Homo sapiens: one gene and its partners. The protein of the gene in region 1 interacts with the protein of each later gene in a pairwise test. Each region holds a gene or a part of one and is shown on either strand. Other genes may lie near its edges.

What was found.
Region 2: the proteins of SGF29 (region 1) and LZTS1 interact in binary tests that used the Homo sapiens proteins (3 or more experiments, as listed by UniProt).
Region 3: the proteins of SGF29 (region 1) and DBF4B interact in binary tests that used the Homo sapiens proteins (3 or more experiments, as listed by UniProt).
Region 4: the proteins of SGF29 (region 1) and SYCE3 interact in binary tests that used the Homo sapiens proteins (3 or more experiments, as listed by UniProt).

The regions. Positions count from the first base shown.
Region 1 is NC_000016.10:28,576,980-28,582,469, forward strand, and holds part of SGF29 (SAGA-associated factor 29), read left to right. Parts: intron 1-4,075; 5' UTR 4,076-4,090; coding exon 4,091-4,165; intron 4,166-5,490. UniProt on the Homo sapiens protein: Chromatin reader component of some histone acetyltransferase (HAT) SAGA-type complexes like the TFTC-HAT, ATAC or STAGA complexes.
Region 2 is NC_000008.11:20,255,314-20,260,171, forward strand, and holds part of LZTS1 (leucine zipper putative tumor suppressor 1), read right to left. Parts: intron 3-4,858; 5' UTR 1-2. UniProt on the Homo sapiens protein: Involved in the regulation of cell growth. May stabilize the active CDC2-cyclin B1 complex and thereby contribute to the regulation of the cell cycle and the prevention of uncontrolled cell proliferation. May act as a tumor suppressor.
Region 3 is NC_000017.11:44,731,457-44,736,314, reverse strand, and holds part of DBF4B (protein DBF4 homolog B), read right to left. Parts: exon of another isoform or gene 4,138-4,858; coding exon 4,050-4,137; exon of another isoform or gene 3,966-4,049; intron 2,226-3,965; coding exon 2,152-2,225; exon of another isoform or gene 2,134-2,151; intron 1-2,133. UniProt on the Homo sapiens protein: Regulatory subunit for CDC7 which activates its kinase activity thereby playing a central role in DNA replication and cell proliferation. Required for progression of S and M phases.
Region 4 is NC_000022.11:50,559,970-50,565,288, forward strand, and holds the start of SYCE3 (synaptonemal complex central element protein 3), read right to left. Parts: upstream 2,951-5,319; 5' UTR 2,889-2,950; intron 2,110-2,888; exon of another isoform or gene 1,824-2,109; intron 1-1,823. UniProt on the Homo sapiens protein: Major component of the transverse central element of synaptonemal complexes (SCS), formed between homologous chromosomes during meiotic prophase.

The DNA.
Region 1 (5,490 bases):
CCTGGCTAACATGTCGAAACCCCGTCTCTACTAAGAATACAGAAATTAGCCGGGCGTGGTGGTGGGCGCCTATAGTCCCAGCTACTTGGGAGGCAGGAGAAACACTTGAACCCGGGAGGCGGAGGTTGCAGTGAGCCAACATCGTGCCATTGCACTCCAGCCTCGGTGACACAGCGAGACTCTGTCTCATTAAAAAAGAAAAAAAAAAGTGCAGACTACATAAATCTAAAGAGACAGAAAGTAAATTAATATTTGCCTGGGGGTGGGGTGGCCATGTACCATGTATTTAAAGTGTGCAATTCATTGGTTTTTAGTATATTCAGAGTTGTGCAACCATCAGCACAATTTTAGAACATTTTCAACACCTGGCCAAAAAAAAAAAACAAAAAAACCCATACTCATTAATAGTCGCTGTCCTTTCTCTCCCAACCCTTCCCCACCCAGCTTTCTATGGATTCGGCTATTCTGGATATTTCACGTAAATGGAAACACAATTATGTGGTCTTCTGTGATTGCAGCTTCTTTCACTTAGCATAATGTTTTCAAGGTTCATCCATGTCATAGCGTGTCTCAGTACTTCATTTCTTTTTACTGTCAAGTAATATTCCACTGTATGGATAATATCACACTTTATGCATTCGTGTAGTTTCTCTACCTCCTTCCCAACTCTTGTCTCTTTTTTATTGTAGGTGTGAAGTGGTGTCTTCAGTAGTTTTGACTTGCATTTCCCAATGGCTAATGATACGGAGCATCTTGTCATGTGCTTGGTGATCATTTATATGTCTTCTTTGGAGAACTGTCTATTCAGATCATTTTTGTATATGGGCTGAGATAGGGAACCAGATTCATTCTTTTACATGTGGATATTCAGTTGTCCCAGTACCATTTGTTGAAAAGATTATTCTTTCCCCACTAATTTGTCTTGACACCCTTGTTGAAAATTAGTCGACCATTTCTGGTTTCTCAGTTCTATTCCATTGAACTAGATGTCTTTGCTTACAACATCTTGATTACTGTAGCTTTCTTTTTTTAAAGTTAAAAAATTTATAAAGTAGAAGTGGGGCTCAGGCTCGTCTGGTGGCCTAGGCTCGTCTGGACCCCTGGCTGCAAGTGATCCTCCCGCCTCAGCCTCCCAAAGTGCTGGGATTACAGGCGTGAGCCTCTGGGGCCTGGCCACAATTGAGTTTTGTTTATTGATCTCGTATCCTGCAACTTTGCTATGAGTTCTAACCTTGTCTTAGTCCTAATAGTTGTTTAATGGATTCCTTAGGGTTTTCTATATACAAGGTCATGTCATCTGCAAATAGAAATAGTTGTACTTCTTCCTTTCCAATGTGGATGCCTTTTATTTCATCTTATTGCCTCATTGCCCTGGCGAGAGCCTCCAGAACAATGTTGACTAGAAATGACAAGGGCCCATGCTCATCTTGTTCCTGACTTAGGGGAAAGCTTTTAATCTTTCGCCTTTAAGTCTGATGTTCGTTGTGGGTTTTTCATAGATGCCCTTCATCAGGTTGAGGAGGTTACCCTCTATTCCTAGTTTGTATGTTATTATACTTTTAAATAGCAGCAGCAGAGCATGTAAGAAGATATGAATAAATACATGGCGAGAGGTTCGCAGTTGATTAAGTGGGGGGAAGAGTTTACTCCATTCATCGTGAATCTGATCTCTGTGAGTAGGAGGATGTGTTAGTTGAACAACTTTAAAAAAAAAAAAAAAAAAGAGGGCGAGGTGGGTGGATCACGAGGTCAGGAGTTTGAGACCAGCCTGGCCAAGATGGTGAAACCCCGTCTCTACTAAAAATACAAAAAATTAGCCAGGCAAGGTGGCGGGTGCCTGTAATCCCAGCTACTCTGGAGGCTGAGGCAGGTGAATCGCTTGAACCCAGGATGCCGAGGTTGCAGTGAGCAGAGATCGCACCGCTGCACTCTAGCCTGGGCGACAGAGCAAGACTCTATCTCAAAAAATAAATAAATAAAAAATAAAAATAGAGACAGGGTCTTGCTGTATTGTCCAGGCTGATCTCGAGCTCCTGGACTCAAACCATCCTCCTACCTTCGCCTCCCAAAGTGCTGGGATTACAGGTGTTAGTCACTGCCCCCAGCTTGAACAAACTTTGTAAGATGCAGGCTATTGTGCAAAATTTTAGCACTGTAAAAAATATCCCCTTATTTTATCAAATATACCTTTATCTTGAGGCATATGTCTATTTTCACCTACTTGTAACTTACACTCTTGATTACTTTTGGTTGTCTTTTTACTCTTGTTCTAATTATCTTTTTTTTTTTTTTTTTTTGAGACGGAGTCTCACTCTGTCGCCAGGCTGGAGTGCAGTGGCGTGATCTCGGCGCACTGCAACCTCCATCTCCCGGGTTCAAGCAATTCTCCTGCCTCAGCTTCCTGAGTAGCTGGGACTACAGGTGCCCACCACCATGCCCAGCTAATTTTTGTATTTTTAGTAGAGACAAGGTTTCACCATGTTGGCCAGGATGGTCTTGATCTCTTGACCTCATGATCTGCCCTCCTCGGCCTCCCAAAGTGCTGGGATTACAGGCATGAGCCACCACGCCCGGCCCTAATTATCTTTTATTGTACAGAAGCATTTTATTTTCATCAGAGTACATTCATCTTGATTGAGATATTTTACAGTAGTTTCTCTCCCCATGCTGGCTGGGCGTGGTGGCTCACGCCTGTAATCCCAGCACTGTGGGAGACTGAAGCAAGCAGATCACCTGAGGTCAGGAGTTTGAGACCAGCCTGGCCAACATGGTGAAACCCCATCTCTACTAAAAATACAAAAATTAGCTGGACATGGTGGCACACACCTGTAATCTCAGCTACTCAGGAGGCTGAGGCAGGAGAATTGCTTGAACCTGGGAGGCAGAGATTGCAGTGAGCCAAGATCACACCACTGCACTCCAGCCTAGGTGACAGGGCAAGACTCCCGTCTCAAAAAAAAAAAAATTATCTTCCCACTATAGTAAGAAAGTAACAGCGTTTTATGACTTGGAAAGTGTCTTCATATAAAATCTTATTTGAATCTCCCAAAATATAGCAGAGATGATCCCCATTTTACAGATTAAAATATGGATACCAGAAATGTTTGAATCATTTGTCAGGATATTGGCAGCAGAGCAGGGGCTAAGGGCATGCTATCTTTTTAAGGCACTTCATATTAATTTTTGTATTTATATACAAAAATTATACACTCCTTGACTCCTTGACTTCGTCGAACATATGACATTCAAACATATCAATAGGGTGGAGGAGAATCCAAGGATAGCTTGCCACTGTATTCATTTCTTATGGCTGCCATAACAAGTTACTGCAAGCTGGGTGGCTTAAGACAAGAGAAATTTATTCCATCACAGTTCTAGGGGCCATAATTCCAAAATCAAGATGTCAGCTTGGTTCCAAAGACAAGGGATTGTTGCTTCTTGGAGGCTTAGACGGGGCCGTTACTCCGCGCATCTCTCCCGGCTGGATGGGTGGCTGCCGGCAGTCCTTGGCATCCCCTGGCTTGCAGCTGTCCAAGTCCAGTCGCTGCTTCTGTCTGCACCTGGCTGTGTGTCTGGATTAAGGGCACACCCTATTCCACTATGACTTCATCTTAGTGACATCTTAAATACTTCTCCAAAGACCCTAATTCCAAACAAGGTGACATTACAGGTACCATGGTTAGGACTACAATGTATCTTTTTATTATTACTATCTTTTAAAGGGATAGGGTGTCACACTGTCATGTAGGCTGGAGTGCAATGGCACGATCGTAGCTCATGCAGCCTCAACCCCCTAGGGCCTAGCGATCCACTCACCTTAGCTTCTCGAATAGCTGGGACTACAGATGTGTGCCACTATGCCGGGCTAAGTTTTTAATTTTTTTGTAAAGACGGGGTCTCCGTGTTGCCCAGGCTGGTCTTGAACTCCTGGCCTCAAGCAATCCTCCCGCCTTGGCCTCCCAAAGTGCTGGGATTACAGCATGAGCCTCCAGGCCTAATGTATCTTTTGAGGGGGCACAGTTCAGCCCACAGCAGCCACTAACAGAGTTCTCTTCTGTCCTCGCTCCCCCACCAGGTGCCCCTGTAGACAATGGCCCTCGTGTCTGCCGATTCCCGCATTGCAGAACTTCTCACAGAGCTCCATCAGCTGATCAAACAAACCCAGGTAAAAAGTCACCACCCTCCATTCCCAGATGGGAACATGGGCTTTGATGCTGAGCCGTGAAGTGGGGGTGGCATTTGTGTTCAGAGAGATTGGACTCGCAGGAACCAAAATGACGTAATAAAAGTGAAAGGAGGGGAATTTGGTGTATGGCTACCATTCCTGTTGGATTTTCTACCATGTACAGGATTTCATGATTCATTTTGTTTGACAGCTATCCTGAGATAGAATTCACATGCCATACAACGCACCCATTTAAAGTGTATAATCCAGTGGTTTTTCGCAGCTCACAAAATTGTGCAACCATTAGCACGATCAATTTCAGAACATTTTTAACACCCAACAAAAATGCCCCATATCTTTTCCTTCCACCCTATTAATCCAGGCAAACAAAAACACTCTTTTTTTTTTGGAGACGGAGTCTCACTGTGTCACCTAGGCTGGAGTGCGGTGGCGCGATCTCAGCTCACTGCAACCTCTGCCTCCTGGGTTCAAGCGATTCTTCTGCCTCAGTCTCCCTAGTAGCTGGGATTACAGGCACACACCACCATGTCCGGCTAATTGTTTTTGTATTTTTAGTAGAGACGGGGTTTTGCCATGTTGGCTGTCTCTACTAAAAATACAAAAATTAGCTAGGCTTGGTGGCGGATGCCTATAATCCCAGCTACTGGGGAGGCTGAGGCAGGAGAATCACTTGAACTCGGGAGGCAGAGGTTGCAGTGAGCCGAGATGGCGCCACTGCACTCCAGCCTGGGTGACAAAGCAAGACTCCATCTCAAAAAAAAAAAAAGCCATTTTTCCCCTATTTGATATCTTTTCTTTCACAGATACAAGGGAGATGCGTATTGGTGCCTGTAGCTCACTGCAGGCTATCGGGCATGCTCTGCCACATTTTGCCCACGATACTCAGGGTTTATAGCTACACAAGGATCAGTTTGCTGGCAGTTGTGCACCGCACAGCCAGGAAGGAGTAGATCCCAGAAATTCCTTCCCAAATGGTATTCCTTTTAGACGTAACCTGGAGAGTAAGAGTCAGAAGATGCCGGCACTCATTGCTAAGTGAAAGATGCCAGTCTGAAAGGTTACGTGCTGTGTATTCCAACTGTAAACGAAAAGCAAAACTAGAGAGTGAAAGGATGAGCGGTAGCCAGGGCCTTGGGAGAGATAGGATGAAAGGGATGGATAGGTGGAGCACAGAGGATTTTAGGGGGTGGAACTCTTCTGCAGGGTACCATGATGGGGGGCACGCAACATGATGCGTTGTCCAAACCCATAGAACGGCAGAACACACAGAGTAAACCATCATGGGGATGGATGTAGTTAATTAT
Region 2 (4,858 bases), on another chromosome or scaffold:
ACCTGGAAGAAGACACAAGACAGAAGTCAGCGTGGGTGGGAGTGGTCACAGCACAGTGCTGATTCCGACTTCCAGATCTGGGCAGTAGAGAAACACATGTCAGAGCCCAGCACTGTCTCCACCACCGGGTGCTCCGTTCCTTCTTCCTTTGTCTGATAATTCAACAAACATTCACTGGGAGCCCACTTCATGCAAGCCTCTACTCTAAACACTCGGGACCCAGCAAGTGACTAAAACAGTCACAGTCCCTGCATTCCTGGAACTTAGGGTTACAGTGGTGTGGAGAGGCCAGAAGCAAACCAATGTATACTATAGCAAGTGGTACCAGTGCTGCGGGTACCAGTGCTGCGGGTACCAGTGCTGCGGGGGAAACTGGAGCAGAGAGGACAGAACAGAATTCTGGGAGGTGGCTGTTTTATGCAGGAAGGTCTTCTTTTGTTAGGGTAGCATTTTAAAAGGCTTCAAGAAAATGAGGGGGCAGCCAGGCATGATGGTTCACACCTGTAATCCCAGCACTCTGGGAGGCTGAGGTGGGCAGATTGCTTGAGTCCAGGAGTTCGAGACCAGCCTGTGCAACTTAGAGAAACCCCATTTCTACTAAAAATACAAAAATTAGCCGGGCGTAGTGGTGCACACCTGTAATCCCAGCTACTTGGGAGGGTGAGGTGGGAGAATCGTCTGAGCCCCGGGGATCAAGGCTGCAGTGAGCCACAATTGTGCCACTGCACTCCAGCCTGGGCCTGACTCAAAAAAAAAAAAAAAAAAAAAAAAGAAGAAGAAGAAAAGAAAATGAGGTGCAAGTCATATGAAAATCTAGGGGGAGAGGGGTACCAGAAGAAACCCCAAGTATAAAAGCCTGAGTCCCTGAGGCAGAGGGGGCTTGGCTGTGTGAGACCCACATGGGAAGCAGCCTGGCTGGAGAACAATTAGCAAGGCTGGGAAGGAGAAACAGAAACCAGGAGCCAGCAGACATCAGAGAACAAGGAGGCTGTGCAGCTCAAAGAGCTCTGGCTTTGCTTGGGTTGAGACAAGGAGCCCCTGGATGGCTTTAAGCAGCTGACACCTTGATCTGCCTTAGGTTGGGGAAGGTCACTCTGGCTTCCGGGTGGGGAAGAAGCTTATTGAGGAGACGGGGGATAGAAGTGGTGGCCAATTACAGGCTAATAGTCTAGGGTGGTAGTTGTGGATTTAGATGTGGTGGTGGCTCACGTCTGTAATCCCAGCATTTTGGGAGGCCAAGGCAGGAGGATCACTTGAGGCCAGGAGTTCAAGACCAGCCTGGGCAACACAGTGAGACCCTGTCTCTAAAAAACAGTTTTCAATGTAATTTTGAGGTTGAGCTGACAGGACTTGCTAAAGGATCAGATGTAGGGAGTGAGCGAAAGAGAGGAGTCAGGGACAATGCCAAAGAGAGGAGTTTGGTTGAAGACATTCAGTTTGCAAAGCCTATTTGGCATCCAGGGAGTGATGGAGAGTAGGCAGGAGGGTGAGTGGGCAGCTGCTGGGAGCTGCAGATGCACTTGTCAGAGCTGGGAGTGTGGAAGTGGCTATGAGACTAGATGGGGTCACCAAAGAGCGGATGCAGAAAGACAAGAGAGGCCTGAGGATGGTTAACATGGAGCACTCGGCATCTGGAGGTCAGGCAGGTTAGGAGAAGTGAAAAAGAGCAGCAGAGAAGGTTTTCAGGGTGATGTCGATATAGAAGACCTAAGAAAGCCAAGTCAAGAAATTGTTTCCTAAAAATGGTGTCAAATGGCCAGGCGCAATGGCTCAAGCCTGTAATCCCAGCACTTTGGGAGGCCAAGGTGGGCAGATCACTTGAGGTCAAGGGTTTGAAACCAGCCTGGCTAACATGGTGGAACCCCGTCTCTACTAAAAATATAAAAAATTAGCCAGGCAAATTGGGCATGGTGGCACGCACCTGTAGTCCCAGCTACTGAGGAAGCTGAGGCATGAGAATAGCTTGAACCCAGGAGGCGGAGGTTGCAGTGAGCTGAGATCACGCCACTGCACTCCAGCCTGGGCAACAGACTGAGTTCCTGTCTCAAAAAAAAAAGTTGTCAAGTGCTGCTGAAAGTAAGATAACAATTGAGAATTAGTCAATGCATTTGGCCATGTGGAGATCTTTGGTAACCTTGACAAGAGCAGTTTTGGAGGAATGGTGGAAGGAAGGCCTCATTGAGAAGATTCAAGAGAGAAAGAAGGAGAAAGTCATTACAGCCTTAATGTTGAGAAGTACCCAGCCGACTTGGTGTGCATTCTAGTTACATCACCTGCCAGCTATGACATGGAAGGTAAACTGTTTAATATCTTTAACCTTCAGTGTTACAAACTAATTCTAAGACACCCTTAAACTTTTTTTTTTTTTTTTTTTGAGATAGAGTCTCACTCTGTTGCCCAGGCTGGAGTGCAGTGGCATGATCTTGGCTCACTGCAACCTCCACCTCGCGGGTTCAAATGATTCTCCCACCTCAGTCTCCCACATAGCTGGGATTACAGGTGAGCACCACCATGACTGGCTGGCTAATCTTTGTATTTTTAGTAGAGATGGGGTTTTCCCATGTTGGCCAGGCTGGTCTCGAACTCCTGACCTCAGGTGATCCACCTGCCTAGGCCTCCCAAAGTGCCGGGATTATAGGCGTGAGCCACCGGACTGGGCACATTTTTTTTTTAAAGTAATAGGATAGCATCTAATAATCAATGCTTAAACAATAACAACCTTGTCAGTCACCAGACAGGAGAAATTGGGATGTCAGTGCCAGCACATGTGCAGATTCAGGCAAATCTCTAAGTTTAGATCACACAATTTTCAAAGCTAGGAAAGGTTGGTGATTGTCATGCACTGTGAAGTATTTCTTAGTCAAAAGACAGATATCCAATTAAGAAGGGGAAAGCCACAAGTTTAATAAAACAGGAGATGTGGAAGGAGCCTCTGTTCTTCGCTGAGCTCTAAATTATACCATCCATCCTAAAGGGGCTAAAGAAATCCCAGGTGGGACATGGAGAACTGCATGGGCACAGCTGAAAGGGAGCCAGAAACTTTCTGACTCTGTTTTTTAATTTTAATTTTATTATATATATATTTTTTACAATTAGCAGTTGTGCATGGAGACTCTGTGACTCTGAATATCTAGGCTTCGATTCAAACTTGCGTTATCATCCTGAAGAATAAAGAGGTTATGTTATGAATATGTTCTATATTTTGTTAGGAAAAGCATGACACAACAAAACTTCGTTGTGTAAGTTTAATATGTTTTGATGTGAAAAGCTTTTATTGAATTGATGGCTTTGTATACTCGAGGAAATACAGTGAAGCAGCCTACCTCATAGGATCGTTATGAGAAATTTAAGAAATACCACCATAAGATAACAGCTCTGGAACATTTACTCAATACTTAGTACATAGTGGGCACTCAATAAATGCTAGGCAGTGTTATCGGTATCTGTTACTTATATTGTGACCATTGTCCTTGCCAACATCCATCATCCCTATGGATCTGGGGAGCCTCAATGTCCAAACTCACTTTCCAGAGCTAATCCTTTCCTTCTAAATGCAACCTTTCTGCCTCCCATTCCTGCGAGGTGTGACTTAGGAGCACAGGGTGGCTCTGCTGATATAAACTTGACACTGACAAAATGTGTTTTCATCCCCCTAGGTCATCCATCCCTAGCTTAGCTAACACCTCTAGTTCCTATGGGGCGAAAATACTACTCTGGTCCACATGCAGGGGTGTCATTTTGGGCCAAAAGACCCTCCCGTGCTCTGCGCAATATGCTCAGCTCCTCCTTTTTTTGCCATGCAATACACATTGCCGAGCAGCTGTACCTGCAGGGCTGTACAGACCAGACCATCAGCTGTGGCATCGGCAGGAGTTTGATTTGAAAATCAATCTCTCTGAGGTTTCTTCATTTACAAACTGAAAATATTAATATTAAATAGGAACATTAGGGAGCCGAAACAAACAGAAGGAAAATACAAGGCCTGGCATGTAGTAGGCGATCTACAGATGTGTGCACGATATGTGTTGCCTTCAAGCCTATGACACCGCTGGAGGCTATTGACAGTATCAGTGCATCGGTGCTAAATGAATCTGTTTATGGTTCTCATCCATCTCCTCTCACCTCCATCTCCTCTCACCTGGGCCTTGAAGGAGCCTCCCAATGTCTTTCCCCAGTCTGTTCATCAGACACATCTGAAGCGTCCAGGTCATAGCACTTCCTAATGGGAACCCTTCCAGTCTTCCCACTGTGTTAGAGTACAATGCGGACTCCTCACCTTGTCCCGCCATGTCCCAGGGACAGACACACTCATCTCTTTCCTGGTGGGTGAACATACGAAGTCTTGACCCATCCAGGAGACTCTGCACTTGCTGCTGCTTCCCCTGCCTGGAATTCTCCTCCTTGGGCTCTTCACATACATCAGCCTTTCTCATTTTCTAGTTCTCAACTTGAGTCTCATGTCTGCAAGGTGGCTTTCTCCAGTTAATCTTGAAACCCTTGCATCCCTCCCCGATTACTTTCTACCAACCTGTTTATTCCCTGTGTAAGGCTTGCTCTCACCTGTACTAATCTTATTATTTTTTATTTATTTTTAAATTTTAGAAACAGAGTCTCATTCTGTCATCCAAGCTGGACTGCAGTAGGTAACAGTGATCACAGCTCACTGCAGCCTCCAGCTGCTGGGCTCAAGTGATCTTCCCACCTTAGCCCCAGAGTAGATGGGATGACGGCACATACCATTACTCCTGGCTAATTAAATAATTCTTTTGTAGAGACAGGGGTCTCGCTGTGTTGCCCATGCTGGTCTTAAACTCCTGACCTCAAGCTATCCTCCCACCTTGGCCTCCCAAAGCACTGG
Region 3 (4,858 bases), on another chromosome or scaffold:
CAAACAAAGCTGATATTAAAAAGTAAATGGAGGCCGGGCGTGGTGGCTCACGTCTGTAATTTCAACATTTTGGTAGGCCGAGGCAGGTGGATTGCTTGAGCTCACAAGTTTGAGACCAGCCTGGGCAGCATAGTAAGACCCTATCTTTAAAAAAAAAAAAAAAAAATTAGCCAGGCATGGTGGCGCATGCCCGTAGTCCTAGCTACTTGGGAGGCTGAGGTGGGAGGATGGTTTGAGCCCAGGAGGTGGAGGTTGCAGTGAACAGAGATGGCGCCACTGCACTCCAGCCTGGGCGACAGAGCCAGACCTTGTCTCACAAAAAAAGTAAAGTAAAATAAACAAATAAAATAAAAAGAAAAAAGAGTAAATGGATCTTCTGGTATATACCTGAAAAATAAGTAAATAAATGTAAGATAAATGGAATAAAATAAAAAAATCAGCTTTAGCTGGAGGGCCAGGATGATGGTGGATCCATGACCACCTGTGCCTCTGGGCCTTAAGAAGTTCCAGATTCTCCTCTAGGCCACACCTTGGGGGCAAACACAATCCAAAGAAGCCTCTCACATTCCCTTGCGTATCAGCACATTACACCCAAAACTCACTTCACTGCTAGATATCTACAAAACTAATTTTTTTTTCTTTTTTTTGAGACAGAGTCTCACTCTGTTGCCCAGGCTGGAGTGCAGTGGTGTGATCTCAGCTCACTGCAACTTGTCTCCAGGGTTCAAGCGATTCTCCTGCCTCACCCTCCCAAGTAGCTGGGATTACAGGCATGCGCCACCACACATGGCTAATTTTGTATTTTAGTAGAGACAGGGTTTCACCATGTTGGCCAACTGGTCTCAAACTCCCGACCTCAAGCGATTCACCTGCCTCGGTCTCCCAAATTACTGGGATTACAGGCGTGAGCCACTGTGCCCGGCCTACAAAACTGATTAAGTTAAAGTAAAAATGCTGTGTATCTGCATAGAAGGGGGGAATTTTTGACATATTTGCTTCTATGTGCATAGAGTCCTAGAAACTGTTCACACTTTCAGGGAGGAAGGTCAGTGGTTGAGGAGAAGCTGGAGCAGGGCGAGAATTTTTGTTGTATACCCTTTTGAATTTTGAATAACACAAATTTAACAGCAGCAATGTCCCCAACACTCCTAGAGGAGAGGGTGTGGAGAGGGCGTCAGTGTCTGAATGCTCCATCCACTATTTTTTTATGTTTTTTTGAGACAGAATTTTGCTGTCGCCTAGGCTGGAGTGCAGTGGTGCGATCATGACTCATTGCAACATGTCTCCTGGGTTCAAGATTCTCCTGCCTCAGCCTCCTGAGTAGCTGGGATTACAGGCATGTGCCACCACGCCCGGCTAATTTTTGTATTTTTAGCACAGTCGGGGTTTCACCACACTGGCCAGGCTGGTCTTGAACTCCTGACCTCAAGTGATCTGCTGGCCTTGGCCTCCCAAAGTGCTGGAATTACAGGTGTGAGCCACCATGCCCAGCTGCTCCATCCACTTTGGATGTGGCTTGCTAGTTCTGTTAGCTAATTAGCACTGTTAACTAATAGCTATTACTGTTCGTCCTGTGCCTGGATGCCAGGCTGTGGGTAGATCTGTAGATTTAATCCTTCCTCAGATTGAGGCTTGGGTGAAGATACTGTGGCTTTAAACCAGGTTGGGCTCTCTTGATGTAGTACACACAGTTCTAACGCCAGCAAAGAATGGAAAACAAACAAGGATTTAGAAGATGGCAGCTATTTCAATCACTCCTTCTCACCCCTGCAGTATGCAGACTCGTTCCCAGTCTAGAGGCTGTACAGGGAAAGTTCCAGAATAGCAGCCTGGTCAGTGCCATGGGCATTTATGAACTTTATCTGGTCCAGAACTACTGTAGGGAGCCCATGGCCCAGGCAGTCCAGGCCATAGGGATGTCTCAGCAGGGTGTGTGCCATGGGAGGACTGCAAGTGCCACAGAGAAGAGAGAAGAAAGGGTGTTGCAAAGCTATGGGCACTAGGACTGAGGTAAATAAGAGGCTGCATTCCTCTTCCATCTTTCAGAATGGCCAGGAAGAGATGGTTTGGGTGGGCCATGGATTTACCTAAGTTGTCACTGATTTCATTGAAAACCATCCATTTGTCCTTCAGTTCAGCAGGATGACCTACCTCTGGCTTCTTTGGCTGTTGTTTTTTCACACATAAAGACGCAAGAGACAGCTGTTGCACGTGCATCATCATTTCTGTGGAGAAGACAGAGGGTTTGTGCCAAAGGCTTCCAGTCTTCACTTACCTAGCACAGCCCCTTCCTGGGCTGCAGGACTAAACTCGCTGGGCCAGCCCACTGAATCACTCCAGCCTTGCCTGCCACCTTCTGGCTACACATCCCCTCTGCATCTCCTGACAGCGGAGGTTAAGGACTGGGTCCTCTATCCCTGGAACAGCACCTGAGCGGGTGTCATGCTCTTTTGCAGCATTGAATACAACTCATCTTTGAACAGAAGGTGCCTCATGGCTTGCTAAGGACTTTAAGGCACCACTGAAGAGCTGTGGCTGTGAGGGAGGCCATGCTGTGTGAACTACTCAGCTGTACCCTCAGGTGAAAGACCAGCAAGGGCTAAACATGCTAGCACTCCTCTAACAGAGAAAGGCAGGGAAGGAAATCAAGTCAGAAATGGCTGATTTTTCAGTGAGATGAAGCCCTCCACATCCCAGACCAGGAACTTCCCCTGTACAGCCTCTAGACTCCCCTGGAAGATCTTGGTACCAAGGGGTGGGGCAGCGCCCCAGTCAGCACCTATGGGCTGTCCCATCTGGACCAATCCTCTAAAATGGATCACAGAAAACTCCAGACTCAAGAATGGAGCTGGGTATGAAACCACTCACTGCCACCTGGTTCAAGACAACTATTCTAGTGTAAACAGGCTGCAAACAGGTTGTTTACAGTGTGAAAAAAGAAGGAGCACAAAATTTACAGCTGAGTAAAACTGAGAGTGGTGGGCCACACTACACACTCTGGTGAGACCATGGACAATTTGCCTAATCCCTTTGAGGCTCAATTTCCTCATCTGTATAATGGGGACAGGACTGTAGTGAGGATTAAATGAGGTAATTCGTAGCACAGAGTCAATACCTGTTAGGTGGCCATGAATTTTTTTTTTTTTTTTTGAGACGGAGTCTCGCTCTGTCGCCCAGGCTGGAGTGCAGTGGCGCAATCTCGGCTCACTGCAAGCTCCGCCTCCCAGGTTCACGCCATTCTCCTGCCTCAGCCTCCCGAGTAGCTGGGACTACAGGCGCCCGCCACCACGCCCGGCTGATTTTTTGTATTTTTAGTAGAAAAGGGGTTTCACCGTGTTAGCCAGGATGGTCTCGATATCCTGACCTCGTGATCTGCCTGCCTCGGCCTCCCAAAGTGCTGGGATTACAAGCGTGAGCCACCGCACCTGGCCGAATTTTTTTTTTTTTTTGAGACGGAGTCTCGCTCTGTCACCCAGGCTGGAGTGCAGTAGCATGATCTTGGCTGACTGCAACCTCTGCCTCCTGGGTTCAAGTGATTCTCCTGCCTCAGCCTCCTGAGTAGCTGGGATTACAGGCACGCACCACCAGGCTCGGCTAATGCTTCTATTTTTAGTAGAGACGGGGTTTCACCACGTTGGTCAGGCTGGTCTCGAACTCTTGACCTTGTGATCCACCCGCCTTGGCCTCCCAAAGTGCTGGGATTACAGGTGTGAGCCACCTCGCCTGGCCAGTGGTCATGAATATTAAGATCATTTCTGCATTTGTAAAACAGGATCATCATACTAGCTGGGGGAGAGCTGTAGCAGGTGACATGAAACGGCATGTTCTAGGGACCTCCTGCGGGATGCCGAGGCCACAGCCTGCACTCTGCGTCCTCACCGCTTTCCCCCTTCCCCACATCCTCCCACCTTTGTGGATCAACATGGCAGCTGAGTATTTCTGGCTTCCGGTGACCAGAAGCTCACATGACCATGATCCTTCTAAAAGCTGACACTCCTGGTCAAAGTCACCAATTCTCCCTCCACAGGAGCCCAGCACAGAAAGGGTACCATCCACGTGCAGAATCCTCACTCCCCAAGAGCGGGCATTGGTCAGGAGGCTGCTGCTGCCCCCACTGCCTCCTCCACTGATGCTCCCCTGAAATTACAACACAGAGTCAGGTAGGAGCAGAGACTCCCCAAGGCCTGAAAGTGAAGGGGACAGATAGAAATTGCTTCTGGGAGGCCTGAGTCATCCATGGGAGGGACTGCAGGGAGGCAGGTAGGAGAGAGAGTACAGTGCCCAGAGAGTCCATCCCAACCCCCAGGAAGACATCCTGTCCTCCACATGGCCACATTGGGAGAGGAAGGACCACTGGTCTGCCTATACATTGTGCTCTGGCCACCTCGTGACCAGGAAGGAACAGATGCTTCTGAGAGAGCTGTTCGTTGGGAGGGCCTCTGCGAGGAAAGCTCTCAGCACAGTAAGTACACAACAAACACGGTGACCATCATCCTCACTGAGCATGAAACTATGCTAGCTGCAGATCTTCCCCCTCCACTGGCTCAGTCCAGCAGCACCACCTCCCCCATCACAGCCATGTACCCCTCCTGATGTCACCAGCATGACTCTTCTCACAAGATCACCTTAACTCCTCCTCCTGCCACTAAACTTTAACAGCCCTGGATTTTCACACAAGGAATAAAGAGTTACTTGTTTTTTGTTTTTTTTTTGAGACAGAGTCTAGCTCTATCGCCCAGGCTGGAGTGCAGTGGCACAATCTCGGCTCACTGCAACCTCCACCTCTCAGGTTCAAGTGATTCTTCTGCTTCAGCCACCTGCGTAGCGGGGACTACAGGTGCGTGCCACCACACCCTGC
Region 4 (5,319 bases), on another chromosome or scaffold:
TTGACAATCTGGAGGTCACACTGGCAATCTTGACAGGAGCTGTTTTCATGGAGTGGCTGGAACAAGAGCCCAATCGAAATGTTTCTAAAGAGAGGGAAGGAGAAGTAGAAACTGGTGAGTTTTACTTCAAAGAGAAGCAGAGAAACATGCCAGTACCTGGAATGTAATGTAGAGTCACAGGGGTATTTTATTTTAAGTTGGGAGATATTACACCAGTGTCAAAGATTACAGTATTTGGGCATGGCAGGCCCAGGCATGGTAGCTCATGCCTGGAATCCCAGTGCTTTGGGAGGCTAAAGCAGGAGAAATGCTTGAAGCCAGGAGTTTCAGACCAGCCCGGGCAACAGTCTCTACAAAAAAATTTAAAAATAGCTGGGTGTGGTGGTGCGCACCTCCAGTCCTAGTTACTCAGGAGGGTGAGGTGGGACAATTGTGCCACAGCACTCTAGACTAGGCTACAGAGGAAGATCTGGAAGATCCCCTCTGCAAAATGAAAAAAAGGGCTCAGTAAATTCAAGATATTTGATTTGGGTGTCACTGGTCAACTCGGTGAGACGTTTCAGGAGAGCCATAAAAGTAAAAATATTTCATGAATTAAATAATTAATGGATCATTAGACAAAATGGATTGTGTGTACAGATTTAGATGGGAAGGGGAGAAAAAAACAGGAGGTAACTAGAAGGTGATACAGAGTCAAGGTTTTTTGTTTTTTGAATTCTTCGTTTCTAGGCTGTGTGGAAAGAGCTACCTGGACAGAAAAGCCTGAAGAATCAGAAGAAAGGGCAACTGATGGTGCAGGGACTGGTCTCAGACAAGTAAGGGGTCATTTCACCCTATGAAGGTAAGGGAAGGTAAGGAGGTAGAGATAGAATAAGGTAGGTAGAGGTCAAGGTAGGATGGCAAGGGGGGGATTTCAGGCCCGATGGTCTCTAACTCCCTAATAAATGGCAATGAAAAGTTTCTTCTTGTAACAACAGACATTCTTGGTTTGAGGAGAACGATAAAGCTTTATCAAAGCTGCATGCCTCCCTAGGGGCACCTAGGCATGTGACTGAGGCCACATGGCCACAGTGTCCTCAGGACCCTAAGACGGCACAGAGACAGTGGATGGAGTGTAGAAGGCCTGGGAACGTAAACATACATGCAGTGGATGGACAAGGTAAGGACACTGAGAGCACAAGTATGAGAGTGGCTTAAGGGGTGGTTGATGGTTGGGGTGAAGCAGAGGCATAGAAAAGACATGTAGTTTCTATAAGTGGGGCGTTGGGGTGGCCACAGGTAGATTTGGGGATAGAGCATGAGACTGCTAGAAGGATGGAGGCTGGGCCGGAGTGGCACTGGATCTCAGAAGAGGGATGGATCTGAAAAGGAGATCCAGGGAGAGGGTGTGAGAGCTGATGTGGAGGAAGCAGCCACAGGATTAGAATTCACGGCATTTCTTGCCTAATGAGGTTGCCTGGGATGACTGGGAACGGGTGGAGAAAGAGGCCTGAGCCCGCACCAAAGCACAATGGAACGGAGCTTAGGATGGGTGGCGGAAGTGTGGGGCGGGAGGAGCGTGGGGCGGGAGGAGTGTGGGGCGGGAGCGTGGGGCGGGAGTGTAGGGTCTGGCTTGGGTATCACTTTAGGTGTGAAGGACGGGGGTTGAGCGAGTCAGAGCCTAGAGTCTGGTTTGTGGTCTGAGTGTCTTGCCTGGTACGAAGAGTTTCTAACAGAGTCTGGGATCCCTCTGAGAACAAGGAATGTGAGGGGATAAGAGGGATGCTTGGTGCAGAGATGTGCTCTTTTGTACGGGATGAGAGCAGCACAGGAAGGGAATGCACCTGTGATGTGGGAGAGAAGTCTTGGAGTTGGGCTATGAAGAGTCTGGGCGGGTCCTGAAGTGCAGGTGGAGGAAGCCAGAGGTGCGTGTGGGAACTTGGGGTGTGAGGTGGTGTGTGGACTCCGGGGTCCCAGGTGTGGCAGGTGTGAGGGTAAGAGGGGCAGGCTGCACGGAATGAGAAGCCCAGGGTGTGCAGACTTCAGGATCAGGAGTGTATGGTGTGAGGACATGGAGATTAGGTTAAGGGGGTGAAGGACTGAGGTGAGGGATGTAAGGTGGGGAGAGTGGGGTATGGAGTGTGCAGTGAGGGGAGCGGGGGAGGGGTGAGGCGGGGTGAGGCGGGGTGAGGAGGGGTGAGGGGTGAGGCGGGGTGAGGGGTGAGGCGGGGTGAGGGGTGAGGCTGGGTGAGGAGGCGGGTGAACGGTGACGTGAGCGATGAGGGGTGAGGGGCGAGGCGGGTGAGGCGGGGTAAGGAGGGGTGAGGCGGGGTGAGGGGTGAAGGGTGAGGCGGGGTGAGGGGTGAAGGGTGAGGCGGGGTGAGGGGTGAGGGGTGAGGCGGGGTGAGGGGTGAAGGGTGAGGCGGGGTGAGGGGTGAAGGGTGAGGCGGGGTGAGGGGTGAGGCGGGGTGAGGGGTGAGGCGGGGTGAGGGGTGAGGGGTGAGGCGGGGTGAGGAGGGGTGAGGGGTGAGGGGCGAGGCGGGTGAGGCGGGGTGAGGAGGGGTGAGGGGTGAGGCGGGATGAGGGGTGAGGGGTGAGGCGGGATGAGGGGTGAGGGGTGAGGCGGGGTGAGGGGTGAGGCGGGGTGAGGGGTGAGGGGCGAGGCTGGGTGAGGAGGCGGGTGAGCGGTGACGTGAGCGATGAGGGGTGAAGGGTGAGGCGGGGTGAGGGGCGTCGGGGGAGGGGCATGGGGTGTGGAGTGAGTGGAGTCGGGTGAGTGGAGTTGGGTCGAAGTCAAGGGTCTGGCTTGAGGTTGGTGCCACCGCGAACGCTAGGACAGGGTCAGGCGGAGCCCAGCCGTCAGGGCGCGTTGGGAGGGCCGGGGCCCAGGGGGGCGCGGCCTCGCTCACCTCCAGCTTGGCCCGCGCTCCGGTCCTGCTCTGGCGCCCCCAGCGGCCGCTTGAGGAACAAGGCCGCTCCTCGAGAGGGATGCCCCGCCCTTTCCGTTAGCGAACCCTCCCCGGAAGTGACCTCTCGCCCTCATTGGGTGTCCTCGGGAAAAGGGGCGGGGCATTCCGCGCTGCTCCCACAGGTCTGCGGCGTCCGAGTCTGGGACTGGCAGGTGCGGTGCTGGGGACGTCCTGAGGTTGAGGGAGAATCCTGCGGAGATGAAGAGCTTCCCGGCCTGACAGTTTTGCCCCCACCTCCTTCTTGAGCTTAAGGATTTATACGCAGGGCCCCGTTTGCCTGCTGTGTCCCCAGTGTCCAGGACAGCGCCCGGTACCAAAGGTGCTGGTAAACATTTGTCGAATGAGTCGCTGAACGCCCAGCTATTTCCACTGTCACAGCGATCATGTGTGGCGGACATTATGTGGCATGTATCTTACAGAGGAGGCAGCCCGGGCTCAGGGAGACGAGGCAGAGGTGCACGCAGGTCTATGTGGGCTGGAAAGTGCTGGGGCCTCCCGGGCGCTCCTGGTCTCCAGGCAAGAACTGGAAGCAGAGCCACTCAACACCTAGAAGGGCAGTGACAGAAAGCTCTGGCTGGGAGGAGGCTGACCAGAGGCCAGTCTGAGCTCAGCCTTTTTTTTCAGAGGGACGTGGGCACCCTAGAAGGGTGGTAAGTAGGCGAGTGGCAGAGTTAAAAGGTCTCTGGCTGCCGAGGCGGGTGGCGACGGGGCCGGCCGTTGCTGTTGTTTGGCTGAGTGGTGGACAGGGTCAAAGCCATTCCAAGGTCGACTTGACAGGGCTTGGTAATGTGGGAGGGAGGGAGAAAGAAGCAAGGGGCTAATGGCCGGGGTGATACCACTGGCAGAGATGTGGAAGAGTGGGAGAAGCTAGCTTGGAAGGTTAACTTTGATTTTGAACACCTTGTGTTTGAGAATCCTGACAAACCTTAGACCCCCTGAATTTTCTCTCAGGGATTCTGATTCTTAGCAGCCTGATTGCAGAGGAGGAAAAATGGCTGGGGTTGAGCCAGACAGTTCTGGGCAAGGAGTGAGCATTCGCTTGTTTATTGAGGAGGCTGCTGCCTGGGCCACACTCCCTCCGCCAGCTGCCAGGTTCCTGCCCCGGTTGAACCCGGTTTTCTGGCCATCCCTTTCCACCTGTGAGCTGCTCTTCATACTTCCATTTGCTTATACAGCCCAGAGCCGATTTCTGTTACAGCAGCCCAGAGAAACATGAATAGGGAATAATTCTTTTTTTTTTTTTTTGAGACGGAGTCTTGCTCTGTTGCCCAGGCTGGAGTGCAGTGGCACGATCTCGGCTCACTGCAACCTCCGCCTCCCAGGTTCAAGTGATTCTCCTGCCTCAGCCTCCCTAGTAGCTGGGATTACAAGCACATGCCACAACGCCCAGCTAGTTTTTGTATTTTTAGTAGAGACCGGGTTTCGCTATGTTGGCCAGGCTGGTCTCGAACTCCTGTCCTCAGGTGATCCACCCGCCTCGGACTCCCAAAGTGCTGGGATTACAGGTGTGAGCCACTGTGCTTGGCCCGAATCAGGAATAATTCTGATGGCTAAGGAAGACAGCTTCCGAGAGAGTAGGAGAAAGGGCACAGGATTCCAGGCAGAAGGCCCATCTAGGGCAAAGGCGAAGGTGTGGCTCAGCCTGCCTCCTTTGGGGAATGGCGAGTGTGTTCTGGGCTCAGGGTTCTTGGTAAGGGACAGAGAAGACTCGGGAAAGATCAGTTGAGCTGGAATGTGCAGGCTCTTGAGTACCCTGCTCAGGAGCTGGAGGTGGGCTACCCTGCAAACTCCAGGCCATGAAGCCCAGGAAGATGTCAGGCTGGTCTTCCCATGCCCTTGTGTATCTGAGACCAACTGTCACTAAATGTTTCCTTTACGCCCTGGACACACAGCTAGACTCTACTTCTCAGATTCTCTTGAAATACAAGTCTTTAGCCAGAGGGTGTGGAGGGAAATGCTGTGTATCACTTTGAGGTTGAGGCCATCAAAGCCTCCCACAGGTGGCCCCCTCTTTCTCTCCCCACGTACTTATGATGTTGATGCCCAAGGCAGCTTGAGTACTACCTGCTGAAGGCAGGGCCTCTGTCACCATAGATCCTTGAATAACAGTATGGAGCAGAGCCCTCATCTCAGCCAACTGGATTTTATCTGACCAACAGTCCAGCTTCTATTGGGTTGAGCCATGAGGTTTCAGGATTTATGTTATGGCTGCTAGCTTTTATTAATGCAGACCTGCAGACCTATGGGACATGGGGAACTAATTGGGGTTTGGGTTGTCATCAGAGGTTTATTTATTTTTTTAAGACAGGGTGTTGCTCTGTCACCTAGGCTGGAATGCAGTGGGTCAATCATGGCTCACTGCAGCCTCAAT